3 linked regions of the Homo sapiens genome follow. The main gene of each other region encodes a partner of the protein of the gene in region 2 in a complex. Each region holds a gene or a part of one and is shown on either strand. Other genes may lie near its edges.

Region 1 (7,033 bases), on a different chromosome or scaffold from region 2:
GAAGCCAAAGTGGGCAGATCACCTGAGGTCGGGAGTACAAGACTAGCCTAGTCAACATGGTGAAATCCATCTCTACTAAAAATACAAAAAAATTTAGCTGGGCATGGTGATTCACGCCTGTAATCTCAGGTACTTGGGAGGCTGAGGCAGGAGAATCTCTTGAACCCGGGAGGCAGAGGTTGCAATGAACTGGGATCACCCCACTGCACTCCAGCCTGGGCGACAGAGGGAGACTCTGTCTCAAAATATATTATTTATATGTTTGTATATATTATATATATATTAAAATCTGTAAATATGTATATAAAAATCCTTATGTATGTAATACTTGCTTATCAAACAAAATTCAGAAAATACAGAAAAATGGAAAGAAGAGGGAAAAAATTGTCTTTAGTTCAGCTGCGGAAAGAATGCCACTATTCATAGTTTGGTCTATTTCCTTTGAGTCTCAGGTGTATTAATTTTTTAGGTAATTGTAGTTAGCAGGATACTAACAGACTTTCAATTACTGTTTATTGAAACTTAAGCATTTTTCATATAATTGTATCCACTTTGTTTGATTTTCCCACTTTGTGTTATAAATAATTAAAGACAGTGAACACAGGACCATAAAACTGAATTTCATGACTTAAATAGTAGTAACTAACATTGATTGAGCACTTAGGCACCAGGCCCTGTGCCTTGCATTTTATATGCATTACTTCCATCTTCCTAACAGTTTATATCAAGTCAGTGTCGTCATTTAGAGGAAGAAACCAATACTTTAATAACTAACTTGCCCATGGAGGCTAAAAAGTAGATTGAATTTAAACCTTGATCTCTCTGACTCCATACTCTTTTTTTTTTTTTTTTTTTTTTTTTGAGACAGAGTCTTGCTCTTGCTCTATTGCCCAGGCCAGAGTGCGATGGCACAGTCTTGGCTCACTGCAACCTCTGCCTCCTGGGTTCAAGCGATTCTCCTGCCTCAGCCTCCCAAGTAGCTGAGATAGGCGTGTGTCACCATGCCCATATAAATTTTTTGTATTTTTAGTAGAGATGGGTTTTTACCGTGTTGGTCAGGCTGGTCTCAGACTCCTGATCTCAAATGATCTGCCTGCCTCGGCCTCCCAAAATGCTGGGATTACAGGTGTGAGCCATTGTGCCTGGCCTGACTCCATACTCTTAACCACAGTGTCATAGTCGAAGATATGCATATACTAGGTTAACTTCATTTTGTCCTTTAGTGTACCTGAGGGCTTGGAGGGAGTGTTTTTGTGATAAAGTCATTAAACATTGAGCTGATATATAAACGAATAAGAATATGAATTCAAGGTTGTATCTTCCAAACTAGGGGAAAAAAGGGTATTTTATTCTTGAACTAGTTGCAAGAATAGGATGCTTTTGGGGTCGTCCATAGTCTGGGTGTCTTCTGCATGTTTATGGTAGAAGACGTGAAGAAAAAGACAATCCAATTTATGTTTTGTTTCTACAACTAATTTGTGAATGGGAGACTAGTTCATAAATATAATATTTCTTTCATTAAATATGACTGAAATAAATAATGTCAAGTGGTATTTCAGAACATTACAAATAAATTGTTGGGATTTCCAAGTTTCAAAGATTGTTCTTGTAGGCTAAAGGATCTTGTGAATTAAGCCAAAAACTAAGTTTGATATAGTTGAAGAATAAACCACGTTTTTTAAATGTTGTTTAAATTAGGCAACAGCTGTTTACCAAGCGAAGGAGAAACTCAAGTCAATAGAAAAAGCAAGAAAAGGTTAGTATCATGGGAAGACTGAATGACCTGAAAAGTTAAGGTTCTGGTTTCAGGAAACCAATACAAGAGGATATTACTGATAATCATTTGCTGCTGTTGAAAAGATTCAGTAAATTTTTATTGTAAAGTGTGTTGTGTTCTAGCATTGTGCTGGGTTTTGTGAGGGAGGTAGAAGTATCACATCTTTTTTCAGATTATAAAAAGCAATTAATACAAGGCAGTTTATGGCTGTGTGCCCAAATGTGCAGTAAAAACAGTGAGTTTATAAAATTGGTGGGAGAGGGAAAGAGAAGTATGGGTTAGAAGTGGGATTTGTACCAAATCTTGAAGGTTAGGACAGAGAGAGTGAAAAGACATCCATTGGGCAACTGCGCTGGGACTGAAACATCATGAAGTCAGAGCCAGACGTACATGAAGTCAGAGCCAGTTATACCCTTGGCATATAAGCACATTTGGTGGTGCAGAGGCCCACATGCCTTCCTGCCCTGCTGTCCCTTTTTCAAAGGCTTCTGTTAAATAGCTAATACTCCTTTTTTTTTTTTTTGAGACGGAGTCTCGCTCTGTCGCCCAGGCTGGAGTGCAGTGGCGCGATCTCGGCGCACTGCAAGCTCCGCCTCCCGGGTTCACGCCACTCTCCTGCCTCAGCCTCCCGAGTAGCTGGGACTACAGGCGCCCGCCACCACACCCGGCTAATTTTTTGTATTTTTAGTAGAGACGGGGTTTCACTGTGTTAGCCAGGATGGTCTTGATCTCCTGACCTCGTGATCTGCCCACCTCGGCCTCCCAAAGTGCTGGGATTACAGGCATGAGCCACTGCGCCCAGCCAAATAGCTAATATTCTTTTGAGAGTTAGGTTAGGCTTCTGTAGCAAGAAACAAATCTCTAGGAGAGATGGCTGAGGCTGGCTGTTGACTTCTAGACCGTTGTTTGATTCTGTTTTTAATCTTCAAAAACTGTACACACATACACTTTGTTACATTGAAACAGTATCTAAAGTTTGTAAAATGAAGTGTGTGGTTCTCACTTCTCAGAGGTAACTATTAATGTTTGGTATATGTCCTAGATTTTTTTTTTCTAGATCTGTGAGTATGTATGTAATAAAAATACAAATACACATATGTACATACATTTTGAACAGTCGGGTCATACCGTACATATTATTTAGCAGTTTAGTTTTTTTTTTTACCTAATGAATACATTGTAGACATCTTTCTATTTAGGTCTACTTAAGAGCCTTAGGGCATATTGATCGAACAGAGTGGTGTGAACTGTCTGCTCTGATTTCATAGCTTGGATGTCTTTGAGAAATGAAACACTGTTTTCTCTATTTTATTTGTGCTCACTATGCTTTCAGAAGAGGAATGGTATTTAACGGTAGTTAATAATTGAGATTATTGAGTGCTATGGTGCTAATCTCCGAAATTTGTTTATGTCAGCTAATTTTTCTGGATTAGTGTCCTGTTTTTGGAGATTTAAGTTTATACTAAACATGTAGGTATTGTTAAGGAAGGCAGGTGACTGAGATTATTTTATTTTCAGATAATTTAAAATTAAATACGATGTGTAACTGATAGATACATTTCTAAACTTGTATGTTTGTTAGACTACAGGTTATACTGTCCTCTTAAAACTCTTTCAGGTGCTATCTCCTCTGAAGAAATAATTAAGTATGCACATAGGATCAGTGCAAGTAATGCTGTATGTGCTCCACTGACCTGGGTTCCAGGTAAACATACTCGTCTTATTATACTAGATATATGTGGTTTTGAAGATTCTTAGGTGACTATGTACAGACATAGATTTAATTTAAAATGTATTTATCCTTAGAAACCTCTGCCACATATTTTCACATCTTTAATGGTTTATAAGTAATGATATAGGCCATGGGTTTTATAAATTTGGTTTTCTGTGAAGCCATTGTTGCTAGGGACTGTGTTTCTTTCGTCTTTTGAAATAATAAATTGATAATTTTTTAAAGTACGAGATAATAATGTGATGCTTCTAAAGCTTTGGATTTATATACCATTTTATCAGGGCTGGCCAGAAGCAAACTCTTTAGAGCCATTAGGATTTCCACAAAGGTTCCAGCCTGAGAAAGACAATTCCAGTTCTCTTAGATGCTAAAGACAAAGCACTACGCACCCAACAGTGAACATACAGGCTTGGAAAGAGCTGGGATAATTAGACAGCAAAAGAGAGGATCAAGCTGCAACTATATTGACAGTGGATGAAACATAAAACAGGAGACGTAAGGTAGCAGCCTTATTGGAGGAAGGGGAAATATTAGTAGTTATCTCCACTTCAAAATAACTTCTGAAGGTGCTGTGTTACCATGCTGAAAGCACTAAGGGTGACTATAATTTTGGGGATGGATAAGCTGCAGTTGGTGAGATGTGCCCAAAAAGTCAATCCAAATCTGGTCAAGTTTTTGTCAACCACATACTGCTATTTAGTGTGCTTTCATGTTTGGGATGGACATTACCTGCTCCTGCTATTTTGCCACTTACACGAATTAGTTTCTGAATTACAAGATCAAAGAGGTTGGTTAGAAAAAGGTTTTATCTTAGACAAGGTGGCATGAGGAAAATAAAAGTAAAACAAAAAGATGAAAAATGTAAAAAAAAAAAAAGATTTTAAATTGAGACAGTCCTTCTATTAAACATTCCAGTCCTTTCTGTCTTATAAGTGTCATGATTTTTTTCTCCCTTGCAGCATAATCATTGTCATTTTCTTGCTAGAAAATACAGTTAAGTTTGAATAATTGAGATTATTATAATTTTCTTAAGTTGTCATCTGGAATGTCTACAAAAAAATGACATCTCTTTTTTTTTAAAGTGTAGAAAATAGTATATTCTTGGGAAGATTCAGAAAAGAAATTAAAATGCGTGTATTTTAAAAAGTAATATGCTATTAATAACAATTTATAAGGTGACTTTTATATTTCTTTCTTTCTTTTTTTTTTTTTTTTTTTTTTGAGACAGGGTCTTGCTCTGTGGCCCAGGCTGGAGTGCAGTGGTGCAATCTCAGCTCACTGCAACCTCTGCCTCCCGGGTTCAAGCGATTCTCCTGCCTCAGCCTCCCGAGTAGCTGGGATTATAGGTGCGTGCCACCACGCCTGACTAATTTTCTTATTTTTAGTAGAGACGGGGTTTCACCATGCTGGCCAGGCTGGTCTTGAACTTCTGACTTGAGGTGATCCACCCACCTCGTCCTCCTAAAGTGCTGGGATTACAGGCGTGAGCCACTGCACCTGGCCAGATGACTTCTGTATTTCAAAATTGAAAATGTAGCCTGAACTTTTCAGCATGAACCAGCGAAAATGAGTATGTCAAATAACATATTAACACTTATTTTTTAAAATATGATTGAATTAAATGCAGTCTTTATTGTTTTAGGGGACCCCCGGAGACCCTACCCAACTGATTTAGAGATGAGAAGTGGGTTACTGGGTCAGATGAACAATCCTTCCACTAATGGCGTGAATGGCCATTTACCAGGAGATGCACTTGCAGCAGGAAGATTGCCAGGTAATGTTAAGCCGAAGAGTGTTTTCAAACAGATCAGGGTTTTCCAGAGATGACAAGGTTGGAATATCTGGCGGTAAAGCAAGTTTGAGATTCCCGACACAATTTTTTTTTTTTTGTAAATTTGAGACAGTCTTGTTATGTCACCCAGGCTGGAGCGTGTTGGCGAAATCTTGGCTCCCAGGTTCAAGTGATTCTTGTGCCTCAGCCTCCCGAGTAGCTGGGATTACAGGTGTGTGCCACCAGGCCTGGCTAATTTTTGTATTTTTAGTGGATATGGGGTTTCGCTCTGTTGGCCAGGCTGGTCTCGAACTCCTGACCCCAAGCAATCACCTGCCTCAGCCTCCCAAAGTACTGGAATTACAGGTGTGAGCCAGTGTGCCTGCCTCTCAGACCCAGTTCATTGTAATAGCTAGATTCTTTGCCGGTTTATTCTGCTCTAAAGATTCTCCTTGAGGGAGGTATGAAATTAGAACAAGCTGCCTTTCTCTTATTTGTAAATATTACACTGTCTTCCTCAGGCATTTGGCCTCTCTTTTTAAATTATTGCTCTAAACATAGCTTTTTTATAATTGTGAAACATGCTATGTAAATAGAGTAAGATAGTTTACGGAATAAAGTGAACACACTCCTGAACAACCCCCAAGTTAACAAAATGAATAACAATAGCTTTTTATAAACTTTTATAACTTTATAAAATAGTATTTCTGTGAGACCCAGTTCATTCTGAGCTTCAGTTTTCCTCAAGTTTTTCATAGGTTTGTGCTATTTTTATATATATTTGTTTTATATTATTCCTCATCTTTTATAGTTTGTAGGTGACTTTTGTTTTGATGTGGTAGAACATTTGGGAAGTAGAAAAAGGCATTTAAAAAAGGAAAAAAATATACCCTTTCTGAGGCAGTCACTTTAAATATTTTAGCCTGTTTCCTTTTTTCCCCTATACATTTTTTGCTTAATGTTACATCATAAGGCTGTCCCTGTGTCATTAATAATGCTTTGTATGCATCATTTTTGTTAGCTACCTAAAGTACAACCAGGGGAACTCAACTGTGATATCCTTGGATATCACCTCATATTTCTCATGTTTTAAAAGTACAGGAAAAACAGATATGGGGAGTCACTGCCACATTTTGGACCAAGGAAGGGACAGACCTAAAAACAGTCTTCCCCAGCTCCATCCCAAGGCCGATACTCTCATATCATGGTGCTGTCATTGGAGAGGGTGCAGTGTAATGTGGCCCACTCCATGGCAGAGAAGTTAGATGAGGCATCAGAGGCCAGAGCTGGCAAGCAGGAAATTACCCACTGGGGTTCCAGGGAGACTTGCTGGGAAGCTGCCCTTTGGGATTCTGGTGAAACCTGCTAGGAAACCACCTTTAGAGGCGCCACCGAAAGTTGCTGTGGTGAACACCACTTAATGTCCTGCACACCAACCAGGCATCACAGCAGTAAAGGAGACAAAACCACCTGATCCAGGAAGTGAAACTTGTTTGCTAGTGGAGTCCCACCTGTGCCCTCTACTGACAAAACTTAATTGTGGCAGCTGGCAAAGGAGAAATGGTTTCAGGGGCCAGAGAGAAGGGTAGATTTGAGGCTAACTGGCATACCTTTCTAGTTAATACCATAACTCTTTCTTTTGACCCTTTAAAAATCTGCCTTCTTTATTTGAGTCTTGAACTATACCTGTTTATGTGCTCTGTCCCTTTGCTTCAGAAATACAGACTTTAAATGTAACTTGGGCCCTTTTTTA
Region 2 (7,033 bases):
ATGGAACTTAAATAAAAGCTTTTAAAAACTCTTTAAATGCTCCTAATTGTAAAAATATTTTCACAAAATACAGAATGCATGAAGAGAAGGCCAATCTTCAGTGCAGCCAGAGGCACAGGGAAACACAGCTGAAGCCCTCAAGGACCGAAGTCCGCTGCAGGCACGGATGGGATTCACTGCCTTCTAAATGCAGATGACTTTAGTCCCAGCAGTCGCCCTGGGGAGGGATTTCTAACCTAAAATTTGAAAGTTGTCTGAACTCCATGCAAAACTGTGCAAGCACGCTTGGACATACGTATTTTTTTCTCAGGATGGAGGGTTCATCATGCAAATCAGATTCTTAAAAAGGTCTGCAGAAAGAGCTAATGACGCTGGAGGTGATGTGGTGTGAATCTGCACAGCTGGATTCCTGAAGACTCTGCCTCCCTCTTACCCTTCTAGCTGATGAGGGAAGGGGCATGGAAAGAAATCTAAGATTTATCTGCCAACTAAATTTGAAACACAGGATGATTAAGGATTCTTAAGACATTTTCAAACGTGTCCCTAAATCAGTAAAACACAGGTTGCAAAGTGGTGGTCCACAGAATATTTTGTTAAACTTTGGAACAAATCACTCCAGGAAATTTCACACACAAATCTAGATTGCCAGCTTCCCTTGAACTGGGAGACCCATATTCCTGCATAACCACCACTTGCTGGAGCTGAGGAGCAGCTGTCCCTCTCAGGCACCTCATGGCCCCTTCCCTGCTGTCTGTCCTGAGTCTGATGCAGTTTTCATTGCCTTTTATCTTCAGCCAGTGCTTCTTTTTACATATAGTAAACAACAACAGTGAATACTTCTTGTATTAATGGCTCTATCAAAAGCAGGAAATCACAGACCAAGAGAACCACAGATTTGAGGAAACTAAAAGCAAGCACGTTTCTTATGAACCCTATTCCTGTGCCTGCAAAATAGAAAGTGAGTTTTGAAAAGACAGCTTAAGGCACTGCCTTTTGCAAATGTCTCCCATCACATTCATTTACATTATCTGGTACTTTTAGGCATCTTAAAATTTGAAACCCAGACCTCCCCTGCAATAAAATGTCTTATTTTTCATCCTGAAAGACGACACCACTGATTCATGCACACAGACTGCTTTTCTGTCCGAAGGCCTATCTAGTAAAAGGACTCACCCAAGCTGATCATCCACATTTCTTTAGGGGAAAGGCTGCATTTTCTTCACTTCATAAATTCATTCAGTAGAAACTGATTAAGGGTCTGCTTAAGTATAAGGCACTGTGCTTGAACCTAAGCAGTTATACAAATGAGCATAACCCTTTAATGCTTTCTTAGTCATCTCTACCTCCATGAAAGCTTCCTTGATTGGCCTAGTCAGAAAATACCCATCACTCCCCATACTCTACTGACCTCTGGACATACTTTTAATTACTTCAGATTTCAAACTGTATTTAAGAAGCTTATATAACTTTCTTCCCTGCAAGACTGAGAGTTGTTCAGAAGCCGGGTTCGCACATCATTCACACAACCCTTCCAGTCTGGCCTCTGCTCCCACCACTCTACAGAAACAGCTCTCACCACGGTCAGAAGACATGTTTAATCCTTATCTTAAAATCTTCACTTGCATTTTAATGCCTGTCAATCACTTCCTCTTTCTTGAAACACTGGCTACCCCTGGCTTCCAAAAGCCCCCTCTATGGTTCTTCCTTCTCTGCTTGATAGGCTCACGCTTCTCTGCCTCACCTATACCCGTCAGAATGTAGCTAAGCTCTACCAGGTCCTCTTCTCGTCTATACTTTTCTCCTCCTCCTCAATGAGCTCATCTGTGCCCCCTTAATTGAAGTTATCACCTATATGCCAACCACTCCCTCTCCCCTGAGCAAAAGGCCCAAGAGTCTACTTGATACCTCTACCTGGATATATCAAAAGGGATCTTTAAAACTTCCAAACTTCCACAACTCAATTTATAAACTTTCTCTCCAGATATAGTCTTATCTTTGAACACCACTGACTATCCAGGTATACAAGTAACAAATCTGGGACTCCTCAACATCTCTCTTTCCCTTATCCCCAAAACTCAACTCACTATTGAGTCCTGCAATAATATTTCTTCTCCACCTTCTTCACAAGGACACTAAGGCAAGCTATTGTTTCTTACTAGGTCTTCCTCACTAACCTCCTTGTCTCCCCAAATCCATTCCTGCCACTTTCTAATCCATACCCAGAATTATAGCCAGTGCACATTGTTATTTTTCCTTTTTAACTACACAAATCTGACATCAGTGCTTCTTCTTAAAACCTTTCAATGACTTTGTATTGCTTTTTGCAGGAAGACCCAACCCCTAGCATGCCTCTAAAGAGTCACTGTAATCTAGCCCCTGCATGCTTCTAACCTCGCGTCAGTTTCTAAAGGCCCCAAGCTCCATACAACCAAGGGCCTTCCCACTTGCAGCACCTCCTGTCTGGGACACATGCCTCGCTCCCCATTCTCCTTCCTCAGTTAATGTGTACTCATCATTGAGATCTCTGAGCAAATGTTACTACTTCTACAACGAAGTCTTCTCTGACCTTCAGCCTAGAGTGCCCCGTCTATCCCATGCTTTTATCACTTATAAAATGGGTTGTAATAATATGCGTGCTTGTGTAATTATTTAATTGATGTCCACTTCCAGAATAGATTAGAAAGTCCATGAGGGTAAGTGCCTTGTTTCTTTCAGTAACCATTTTATCCCCCATGATGCATTGCAGTTTAGGCAGTGAATGAGTAAGAAAAGGAAACAGCAAGTTGCTTGGCACTCTTACAGCCCAACTTCACTGGAGCTTTTAATAATACAACCAGTTATATGCCCCAGTAACCACAATGCAAAGTAAAATGTGATTTTGTTATAAGTGATACAACAAAGGGGGAAAACAGAGAAGGGAGAAGAGACTCTGGAAATGGCTAGAAGGCTTCATGGAAGAGGTTCCTTGGAAACTTGATCTGGAAGAATGGTGGATTTAAGCATGCAAGAGTGTGCAAATTATCAGTCTGTAAGCTCCTGACGACTCTGATACTCAGCGGTCACAGGTTCCCAACATAGACTGCTTACTTATGAGTTACAAGAGGAAAATTTCAGAAAACAATTACTCTTCTCCAAAGGCATTTCAATATAAAACATTCTCCCAGTCCATAAGTTTAGGATAAAATCAATACAGCTCTCACTTTAGGTTCTTTTTTTTCCCCCGAAAGACATGAAATTAAAATTTTTTGTCAAATACAGTAAAGAAAGCTTTTAAGTTATGATCATACCAAGATACTCCTCAAAGTAAATTTGTGTTCTGGGACACCTACCATTGCTGTGAGGCCAAGAGTGCACAGTGGCACTTCTCACCAGAGCTTCGTCCACTTTTCCACCAGTGGGGTTATCCACATACTGCCGCCCCTGCTCCAACGCATTAAAGCATTCCGTCCAGTAATCATTATTATCTGCTTGCACCCGGTCATAACTCCAGCTTACACAGGGAAGAGTTTGGCGATTGTTAGAGGAAATGTAGTCCAGGAAATTCAGTGAAGCAAAAGGTTGTGTGTGTTGATTCTGGAGGAGGAGGAGAAGGCTTATGGGTGGCTCCTGGGGTTTTTTGGTTCCTTCCACCTGAGGAAGGAAGGTGGACTGACACATCATTAAGCGCCTCTCTGCAGCCTGACCAATATCAGAATTCTTCCCAAAAATATCCAACTCATCTTCAAGGAAGAGTCCTGAATTGTAGCCAAGTTTGCGGTTCATAATCGCACTAAACCCACAGGTACAGCGGTACTGGTCCTCATTGGAAGAATCGGGGATGTAAAGCCCGACATCCGCCCCTTTGATGTTCATGTTGCAGGCACAGATGCAACAGCTGTCAAAGTTTCTGTCTTTAAAGATATTCATCACGGAATCGGAGAGAATCAGGGTAACATAGAGGCTGTGGGCTTCGGGAATTGGCTGCATGGTGGCGGGCTCCACAGAGTTGAGGGGCCGTGTAGTAGAGGGGGTGGAGGCTGGTGATCCTTGATCGGTGCTATCATACTTAACAGACCCTTGACCACTGGCAGTGCCCCCACCTCTGGGAGTTCTTGGGGTCCTGGGGGTTCGTGGTGTGGGGACAGAGAAGCGAGGGGTTGCTGGAGATGGTAGGACTCCTGCCCCACTATTGCTGGCTGGGGCAGCGCTGTTCAACGTCACGGGTGTGTTCATCTGTGGTGTGTTCAGATAGTCTGGATCTGCTAGGCTCCCAACACTAGGCACGTTACTACAAAAAGAGAAGGCACCAAGTGAGGAAGGGCAGCATGTCACAGATGCTGAACTAGACACATGATCACCCCAGCCATGTACTGTGTATTTCTTATCATTTGTTTCTGCTATCACTGGGATACACTGGTATATTTAATTTTCTCTTAAAAAAAAAAAAGAAGATACAAAGGTCAGTGCAGTGTGTAGAGAAGAAGAAAGTAAGGTATGAAGAATAATTCAACACAGCACTTTCCTTCTACTTATTCCACATATAAGCATCCTCATCCTAACCTCTTGAAGGAACTTTTACTATTTTTATAAGAAAACATGGTACTGGGTTTGGTCAATGTAATTTGAAAAGTTAACTACTAAATGGAACTTCAACCATAAGTGCAGACACTAAATTAGCTAGAGGACCATAGGATGAAATTTCCATCTAATTTGCAATTACATTTTTGTCATTTTTTTTTTGAAATTCAAAGTCTGCCAGTGTACTTGTTCTCTGAGGCTATAATCTATATATCATATCAAAGTAGTTATAATCAAATACACATGAAAATTTAACATTTTTCTAATTTTCAAAATGCAGCCCTATCTAGGCTTACATTTTTATAGTAATGAGTGACCATGAGGGAATTATATTTTAGGTAGCCCATTTACCAGTACTATACTACAACTGATAGAAATATTACATATGCGGCTAAGAGGCCTCAGTATTAATTAGGTGGTTGCACAGAAGTACACATACTGTATCAGAGTTTCCAGCTTCCAGCAGCTTTCTGTGGGGTGGTAAGCACTTCATTTTTCACTTTTCAATATGGTATGCATTGCATATAGTGTAATTATTTTAGTTGCCCAAGACTGACTGGGCTATGTTATCTACTTTCTCATAAGCAGTGACTTCTTTTTGGAACAGCTAGGCAGAAAACACTGTCTGCAAGGTTCTGCTGTTTCATTATCATAAAACATTTTCTTGATATACAGTTGGCCCTCTATAGCCACAAGTTCCACATCTGTGGATTCAGCCATATACAGATGGAAAATCAAAATAAAAATACAATTAAAAAAAAAACAACAGTTAAAAAACACAAATCAAAACAGTAAAGTACAACATTTATATAGCATTTACATTGTATTAGGCATTACAAGTAATCCAGAGATGACTTAAGGTATACAGAGGGATTTGTGTAAATTACAAGGAAATACTCTGCCATTTTATATAGGGTACTTGAGCATCTTCAGATTTTGGTATCCGAGGGGGTCCTGGAATCAATCCCCCAAGGATACCAAGGGACAACTGTACTTTCTTAGATGTATATGTATATTAGCATATGAGTCCATTCTTCCTACTTAGAAGGTATCAAAAGAATATTTTTAAAATTTTTTAATATCCTTTTATATATATTAATACTGTACTTAAACTAATGCTCCTCCAATAAACTACATATTCAGTTACTTATAATGTGAAAGAAGCACGTCATAAAGAAATGTCTCTTCAAATAATTTCCTTGTGATTTTTAATTAGCTATGCCTAAACTACCAGCCTAAAAGTCCAAATCAGGCACTGTAAAGAAATATTAAATCTGAGGCACAGTGGTATCTTTGAGTACAGATAAAAAAAAAAAAATGACCCAGAAAACTTGATTGGCAATCACTGCTCTCTTAGAGACCAAAATAGTTAAGTGTGTAATAACGATCTTTACTCTAACTGGACTCCTTTCAAATTCTCCTGTTCAACAAAACCCTAAAATTATTACGCAGTTCAGATCAGAAAAGGAACTATGAGTACTAACTGAAAACCTAAAGAATTAAATTGCTCCCTGGGTAGTAAGAATGGTTTATCTTGTAATCTGATTTTTCCCATTTAATAAAAATGAACTGAGTAGCAACCCTACGCTAGAAGCTGGATAGTCAAAAGTGAAAAAGAGAAACAAAAGGTGGCTCATAAGCAAGTATGGCAGACATGAAGCAAATGATTGCAGGGGTATTGCATGTGACAAAGGAGGAGTCCAGGGTGATGGCGAGCAGAGACCACAGCAGGATTACACATATGCTGGAAACATACTGTCCAATAAGGTAGCCACCAGTCCCCATGTCCTAAATTTAAATTAATTAACATAAAACAATTCAGTCTTGGTCTCACTAGCCACATTTCAAGTGGTCAACACCTGCAGCAGGAAGCTGATGACTGCCATAGTGGACAGTGCAGACAGGAATCACCTACATGCCAGGTGCAGTAGCTCATGCCTATAATCCCAACACTTTAGGAGGCCGAGGCAGGAGAAACACTTGAACCCAGGAGTTCAGGACCAGTGTCGGCAACACAGGGAGACACAAACTCTACAACAAAATTTCATAAAAATTAGCTGGGTGTGGTGGCACGTGCCTGTAGTCCCAGCTACTCAGGAGGCTGATGTGGGAGGATCACTTGAGCCCAGGAGGTCAAGGCTGCAGTGAGCTGTGATTGTGCCACTGTACTCCAGCCCAGGTGACAGAGCGAGACCCTGTCTCCAAAAAACCCCCCCAAAAAACAAAAACAAAAACAAAAACAAAACCTTCATCACATAAAGTTGTATAATAGAGCCAGTTAAGAATACAAAGAATCTTTGGGATGGCAAATGAAAGATGTAATAGATCTAAATAATGACCTAAATGATTTAAACGATTACACAGCAAAAGCTTGCATGTGACCTTTTTGGGGAAACCTGTATGTATGAAAGAGATTAAACTGCTGAATGGGTTCTTAAAACTGCTATGTCATTTATTGGCAACTGTATGTGCTAAG
Region 3 (7,033 bases), on a different chromosome or scaffold from region 2:
TGGGGACTGCAGGCACCCGCCGTGTAATGATGAGCCTTAGGTGATTACTTGGAGCACAGAGGAAGGGTTTCAGCTTTGTGGGGGAGGTTGGGGTTGATCAGGGAAGGTGTCCTGGATGGGTCCTAGGGAGTAAGTTCTGGAGAACAAATAAGAGTTTGTACAGTAAAACTTACTCTTTCCTTCTTTCCTTCTTTCCTTCCTTCCTTCCTTCCTTCCCTCTTTCTCTCTCTCTCCCTCCCTTTCTTTTCTTTTGACAGAGTCTCACTCTGTCACCCAGGTTAGAGTGCGGTGGCAAGATTTCGTCTCACTGCAACATCCGTCTCCCAGGCTCAAGCAGCTCTCCTGCCTCAGCCTCCCAAGTAGCTGAGATTACAGGCATAGGCCACCAGGCCCAGCTAATTTTTGTATTTTTAGTAGAGACAGGGTTTCACCATGTTGGCCAGGCTAGTCTTGAACTCCTGACCTCAGGTAATCCTGCCTCAGCCTCCCAAAGTACTGGGATTACAAACGTGAGCCACCACGCCCAGCCACTCCCTGTTTCAAGGTGCAGGTACTACCTGCTCAGTGCAGGAAATGTTTGTTTGTCTCTAGTTCTTACCCATTAAAACCTCTGTTCTTGCCGGAAGCTGTAGGAATACAGTGACATGGCTTCACTCTTGCCCATGCTTCTGCCCACTAGCCGTCAGTTAACCCATGCTTATTGAGGACAGTGAGTAGCAGGCGCTTTTTTTTTTTTTTTTTTTTGAGACAGAGTCTCGCTCTGCTCCCAGTCTGGACTGCAGTGGCACAATCTCGGCTCACTGCAACCTCCAACTCCCTGATTCAAGCGATTCTCCTACCTCAGCCTCCTGAGTAGCTGGGATTATAGGCACGCACCACCACACCCAGCTAATTTTTAATTTTTAGTAGAGACGGGGTTTCACCATGTTGGGCGGGATGGTCTCAAACTCCTCACCTCGTGATCCGCCCGCCTCGGCCTCCCAAAGTTTTGGGATTACAGGCATGAGCCACCATGCTCGGCCTGAAACATGGAGCCTTTGAGCATCCCCAGAATCATCTTCTTGATGGGCTTATGCTGATACCATTTGCAGTAAGTCTGACAGAGGCAGGAACAGGGCAGTGCACAGTGACACTGCCTCTCCTTGCTTGGGTTGAAGAGGGCCTGTGGAAGGGGTTGAGGTTCAGGAGAGCTGCAGCAACTTGAAGCATCAGTGTTTGTTCCTCTCAACTGTGGGAGACTAGTTGTCTAAAGATTATCTTTCTTCCTTCTCTCCAGATGGTGTCCTACTCTTCTGTCCTCACAGCCATCAGTAAGGTATGACCATAGACACTCAGGAGCTAGATTGGGGATGACAGACAAGGCCCCGCCTCCTTGACGGCCCTGATGCTGTGACCCGTGAGGCTGGATAGGCAGCACATGATGCCTCTGGCTGGCATTGCTGGACTTCCATGGGAGGGGGATCCTGGCAAGTAGGGGCTGGTGCTTGGGAGCCAATGTCCAGTGTTGAGGATGCTGAGTCTGGAACCCAGGGTTGGAGGAGAGAGGAGCAGGAGTCCTGAATGCACCGTCTGCCTCATGTGAGACCTGGGGGTGGATGGAGGCATTCCGTAGCATCTCCACTGTCCTTTCCACAGTTTGATGACTTTTCTCGGGACCTGTGTGTCCAGGCATTGCTGGACATCATGGACATGTTTTGTGACCGTCTGAGGTAAGGGCAGGGGTAAGGGGGCTCACAATACAATGTTCCAGCCTTGTCTTTGTGCAGAGGTGCAGCTCCTAGCACACAGACCGAGACCAACTCCGGGTTCCAACGTTTTTTCTCCCCACCTGCCCATCTACACTTACCTGTGCCCTCCTTTTCTTACTCCCTTAGGACAGAGTGCCTCCTCTCTGTCTGGAGTAGCTCATTTGAAATCTTGTCCAGTAGGAGCCAAAGGGGCTAAGCATCTTCCCCAGGACTTTGCTAGCTTCTCAGCCCTAGTCCCTAGTAGGGGAGTGCCAGGGACTCTGGGGAACATTGATGTGGGTCGGATTTCAGCCATTGGAAGAACAGAGTCTGATTTTGCATCCTTCCCTGTAGCTGTCACGGCAAAGCAGAGGAATGCATCGGACTGTGCCGAGCCCTTCTTAGCGCCCTCCACTGGCTGCTGCGCTGCACGGCAGCCTCTGCAGAGCGGCTGCGGGAGGGGCTGGAGGCCGGCACTCCAGCCGCTGGGGAGAAGCAGCTTGCCATGTGCCTTCAGCGCCTGGAGAAAACCCTCAGCAGCACCAAGAACCGGGCCCTGCTGCACATCGCCAAACTAGAGGAGGCCTGTATGTCCCTTGATTCCCCTGAGCCCCACCTGCCGCTGCTCCCATAGCCGGTCCTTTAATTGAGAAGGGAGAGGCAGGATGCCATCCCACCTCTTTCCAGGAGGATCTGAAACCATCCCACTTCCTTTTTTTTCTCCCCATAAGCATTGCACACATCCCAGGGACTTGGGCAGGGTGGCACCCGAGCCAATCAACCAACAGGTATTTACTGAGCATTGTTGTATACCCAGCACTGTGCTAGGTGCTGGGGGTGGGGGGTGGGGGGCTACCAAAGGAGCATGTGGCAGGGTCCCTGCCCTCATCAAGCATAGCTGCTAGTGGGTAGCAAGACTAGTACATCACAGACGAGGAAAAAACTAGAGGACAAGACAAGCACAGTGTCCATTATTGTGTTTGTCTCCATGTTACTCATCGCTTGGAAGCAGATGACTCTTGTATTTGAATGTTACCTAAAATGCCCCTTTTAACACAGTGCCTGTCTGCTGTTGGGCCTGTTGTACCATATGCCTCTTGACTCAAGTTCAGATGTTAAGTTTGGGTACTTTCCAGAGCCTGAGAACAGACAGATCACCTGGCGGGAGGGAAGATGCCAGTATTTCCAGCAATGGGGTCCTAAGGCCATAGTCTTGCTCCTTGAAGCCCAAGTGGCTTGGGACCACCTACAGGTCTCTTGTTCTCCAGGAACAAGAATGCTAGAATGGGCTACTCTCGAGGCTTCAGGACCTGGTTGGAGAGCTTGTTTTAGGACTAGTATATTTATTTCTTCCCCAAGTATGTTTTACTGCCTGTGAAAAGTCCAAAAAGACAATCTTTATATAAAAATGGACTGTGTTGACAGCCTCTTCCCTACCTTGGGCCCTTGATAAATGTTTATTGGCTGAAAATCGGATGAATACTGAATTTTAATGGATCTCAGGTCTTGTCTTTTTTTCCCCCTTTTATGCTCCATGGAGGTTAATGGGCTAGTTGGTGCCATTATTCATCATTTGACCCTCTGGAATTGTAACTAGGATAAGTAACTTATAGTTCAGTGCTAACCAATATGGCTTAGACCATGAGTGTGGGCATTAAGGAGAGAACAGTGAGTTAGACCAGTCGGGTGAGTTGCTAAAGGAACTGGGGCTTGAACAGAAGCTTAGAGCATGGTGGGAGTTTGAGAGAGAGTGTGTAAGAGGCCTTCAGCAGGGGAGGGCAGCAAACGCAATGCCTAGATGAGGGAGTGGTTGAGAATGAGAAAGCCATTTAGGGACCCAGTTCCCCCAGAGGAGAGTGACAGCCTCTGCAAGACTGGACTTTGGGATCCGCTCACTCCTCGAGTGATTTGTGGCCGCCCTCCCTGTTCCAGCCACTGGATTCTGGCCTCCCTCTGCCTCTCTCTCCTGAGCCTGTGTGATGCCATACCTTCTGAAGTCAGCTGGCTGTGTCCCCTGGAAATCAGGCTTTTGGGAATGGTCTCTGGGGTTTCCAGCTCTAGGTGCCCACCCCCCTTCTGGAAACAGTGCATGCTGCCCTCAGGCCCCTCCCTCCCTGTTGTCCTCAGGGGAAGCCTTCCTGTGTGGTTTCGTGTGCCGGAGGGAGTGCCAAAATCGAGGAGTTCAGGGCCAGGTGCTCCTTCTCTCCTGTTTCCCATCATGTTTCTGTACTTCCTTCCCTCTGCCAGCTTCTTGGACTGCCATCGAGCATTCTCTCTTGAAACTTGGAGAGATCCTGGCCAATCTCAGCAACCCGCAGCTCCGGAGTCAGGCCGAGCAGTGTGGCACCCTCATTAGGAGGTACCGGCTCCCTGGGGGATGGTGGAGAAGGGAGAGGGAGGACACGCCCTGGGGTAGGAAGATGTGGCACCCGTGCCATCCTCTCCGCCTTCACCTTTGGCCCCCCAAACACCGTCCCCTGTGTTTGTGACCCCTCAGCATCCCCACGATGCTGTCTGTGCATGCGGAGCAGATGCACAAGACCGGCTTCCCCACTGTCCACGCCGTGATCCTGCTCGAGGGCACCATGAACCTGACAGGCGAGACGCAGTCCCTGGTGGAGCAGCTGACGATGGTGAAGCGCATGCAGGTGGGAGGGGCCGAGTGGCTCTCCCTTCTCCAAGGCAGGCCAGCCTGTTGGGGGCAGGAGGGAGGATTCTTCTGGTTCTCCCTGGGAGAAGTGGGGTTTCTCCTGCTCCATGATGGAAAGTGGGTGCCAGTCGTGCACACTTCTGTCATTGGACCTTACTCCCCTGGTTCTCAGCACATAGCTGAGCAGTGACTCTGCCATGCAGTCTCTGACCCAGCCAAATCCTCAGAGTCCACAGAAGGGTGACGGGGTATGGGCACCCTCTTAGGCCTCATCCTTGGCTCTTCCCACAGCATATCCCCACCCCACTTTTTGTCCTGGAGATCTGGAAAGCTTGCTTCGTGGGGCTCATTGAGTCTCCCGAGGGTACGGAGGAGCTCAAGTGGACAGCTTTCACTTTCCTCAAGGTACTGGGGACGTGGGAGGGGCAGAGCCAGTCTAGGAATGGTTCTTAGCAAGACCAGTGGCACCCTGGACCTTTGCCCTGTGTTCCTCCCTGCGGGCACTGGGCCCAGCCTGCCAGGTATTCCAGTGCAAGTTCCCATTGATCATTTTCTCTGAAAGTGCCAGGGCTATATTTAGCCCATTTGGCAGACTCCGTTGTTTCTTACCACAGAGGTGCAGTTTAGCTTGGTCATCAGACAGATAGGTGCAGGGCAGTAAAGGGAGCCAGGGAAAGGGGCCCCAGTCCTCCTTGAAGCTGGGGATCCACTTTTGCTTATGGCATCTTTTTCTGTTGAGCTAGCGGAGGTGCAGGGTGCTTGTGTCCTGTGCCTAGGCCTGGGGGCATCAGGGGCCTGGGCACCTATTGGCTTTCTCATTTAGCACTAAGTGTGCTCTCACTCCCAGGGTAGGAGTGTTCCTGTCTCTCTTCCTGGAGCAGGGGTTCGGGGGGATGCCTTCAGGGGTAGATGAAAGAGAAAAGAAATGGATCTTCCTGTTTTTCCCCCTGCCTCACCCCCTAGATTCCACAGGTTTTGGTGAAGTTGAAGAAGTACTCTCATGGAGACAAGGTGAGTTGGGGATTGAGATGGAGGCATGGGAGCAGAAATAAGGGCAAAGGGGAGGGTCCTTCAGGCCCCAGCTGGGCAGTGTTCTCATGCCTGGAAGAGAGCCGGATGTGAGTGTACACCTCAGCGTGCACGTGCTTCACAATGTGCATGCTTCAGCATGTGCGTGTGCTTCAGCATGTGCGTGTGCTTCAGTGTGTGCGTGCTTCAGTGTGTGTGTTTCAGCGTGTGTGTGCTTCAGCGTGTACGTGTGCTTCAGCCAGTGTGTGTGCTTCAGCGTCTGCGTGCACCCACAACATACACCCAGGCTCCAGGCAGAAAGCAGCCAGGCAACTCAGGCCGATGCCTCCAGCAGACAAGGTTGCCTGAGATGATCAGGGCCTGGTGGCCCTGGAAACCAGATGGACACTTCTGCCTCTTTCTAGGACTTCACTGAGGATGTCAACTGTGCTTTTGAGTTCCTGCTGAAGCTCACCCCCTTGTTGGACAAAGCTGACCAGCGCTGCAAGTATGAGCTCCCCTGGTCACCCCCGCCCTACTGGAAGGCGTTCTGGGCTCTTCCCCTGATCTCTGTGCCAGAGAAGCCTCAGGGGACTCTGTCTCCTTGTTCACTCCCCTTGGCAGGGGCAGGAAATAGGAGCCCACAGTTGCCAAGTCCCCAGAGCCCCTCTACCGTCCCTCAGGCACTCCAGATTTTCCTCATCCTGAAAGAGGGAGGATGCTGCTCAGGGACCTGCCACTCCCACCCCTCACCATCCTATCCAGGTGCCCAGTTCCCTCAGCATCTTTCTCCCTCACAGCTGTGACTGTACAAACTTCCTGCTCCAAGAATGTGGCAAGCAGGGGCTTCTGTCTGAGGCCAGCGTCAACAACCTTATGGCTAAGCGGTAAGTGTGAACGCACCTGTGCTACCCCAAGAGCCCCTTGACCTCTCTCTTGTTACGGTGGGGCTGCTGCGTGCCTTTCAACCTCCTGTCGAAAGTTTGGGCTGCAAGTGACTGGGACCGTGCCTGGGGGTACAGGGAACAGGAAGGAAAAGAAAGCACAGATGTCTTCAGACCAGAGTTTTACACTCTTAGTCACTGCTCTTTAACTCATACCCATCTTTGTGATAAAAGTAAAAATCCTAGGCTGGAGGCGGGTGGATTACTTGGAGGCCAGGAGTTCAAGACCAGCCTGCCCAACATGGCAAAACCCCATGTCTACTAAAAATACAAAAATCAGCTGGGCGTGGTGGTGTGTGCCTGTAATCTCAGCTACTCTGGAGGCTGAGGCACGAGAATTGCTTGAACCCAGGAGGCGGAGATTGTGGTGAGGCGAAATCATGCCACTGCACCCCAGCCTGGGCGATAGAGTGAGACCTTGTCTCAAAAAAAAAATAAATAAATAAATAAAAATCCTGAATCTTCCTTTAATCTTAAATGTGCTTTCAGAGCATTTAAGACTAATGATAGGCCGGCTGCGGTGGCTCACACCTGTAATCCCAGCATTTGGGAGGCCAAGGCGGGTGGATCACGAGGTCAGGAGTTTGAGACCAGCCTGGCCAACGTGGTGAAACCCCATCTCTACTAAAAATACAAAAATTAATCAGGCGCGATGGTATGCACCTGTAATTCCAGCTACTCAGGAGGCTGAGGCAGGAGAATCA

What was found. The genes of interacting proteins can lie anywhere in the genome.
Region 1: MED13L (region 2) and MED4 share a complex: the UniProt entries of both Homo sapiens proteins name them as parts of the mediator complex.
Region 3: MED13L (region 2) and MED24 share a complex: the UniProt entries of both Homo sapiens proteins name them as parts of the mediator complex.

What each region holds. Positions count from the first base shown.
Region 1 is NC_000013.11:48,078,094-48,085,126, reverse strand, and holds part of MED4 (mediator of RNA polymerase II transcription subunit 4), read left to right. Parts: intron 1-1,698; coding exon 1,699-1,756; intron 1,757-3,395; coding exon 3,396-3,482; intron 3,483-5,133; exon of another isoform or gene 5,134-5,151; coding exon 5,152-5,283; exon of another isoform or gene 5,284-5,350; intron 5,351-7,033. UniProt on the Homo sapiens protein: Component of the Mediator complex, a coactivator involved in the regulated transcription of nearly all RNA polymerase II-dependent genes.
Region 2 is NC_000012.12:115,987,691-115,994,723, forward strand, and holds part of MED13L (mediator of RNA polymerase II transcription subunit 13-like), read right to left. Parts: intron 4,268-7,033; coding exon 3,330-4,267; intron 1-3,329. UniProt on the Homo sapiens protein: Component of the Mediator complex, a coactivator involved in the regulated transcription of nearly all RNA polymerase II-dependent genes.
Region 3 is NC_000017.11:40,030,398-40,037,430, reverse strand, and holds part of MED24 (mediator of RNA polymerase II transcription subunit 24), read left to right. Parts: intron 1-1,276; coding exon 1,277-1,315; intron 1,316-1,635; coding exon 1,636-1,709; intron 1,710-2,081; coding exon 2,082-2,314; intron 2,315-2,458; coding exon of another isoform or gene 2,459-2,515; intron 2,516-3,974; coding exon 3,975-4,086; intron 4,087-4,224; coding exon 4,225-4,375; intron 4,376-4,668; coding exon 4,669-4,782; intron 4,783-5,340; coding exon 5,341-5,388; intron 5,389-5,810; coding exon 5,811-5,893; intron 5,894-6,185; coding exon 6,186-6,272; intron 6,273-7,033. UniProt on the Homo sapiens protein: Component of the Mediator complex, a coactivator involved in the regulated transcription of nearly all RNA polymerase II-dependent genes.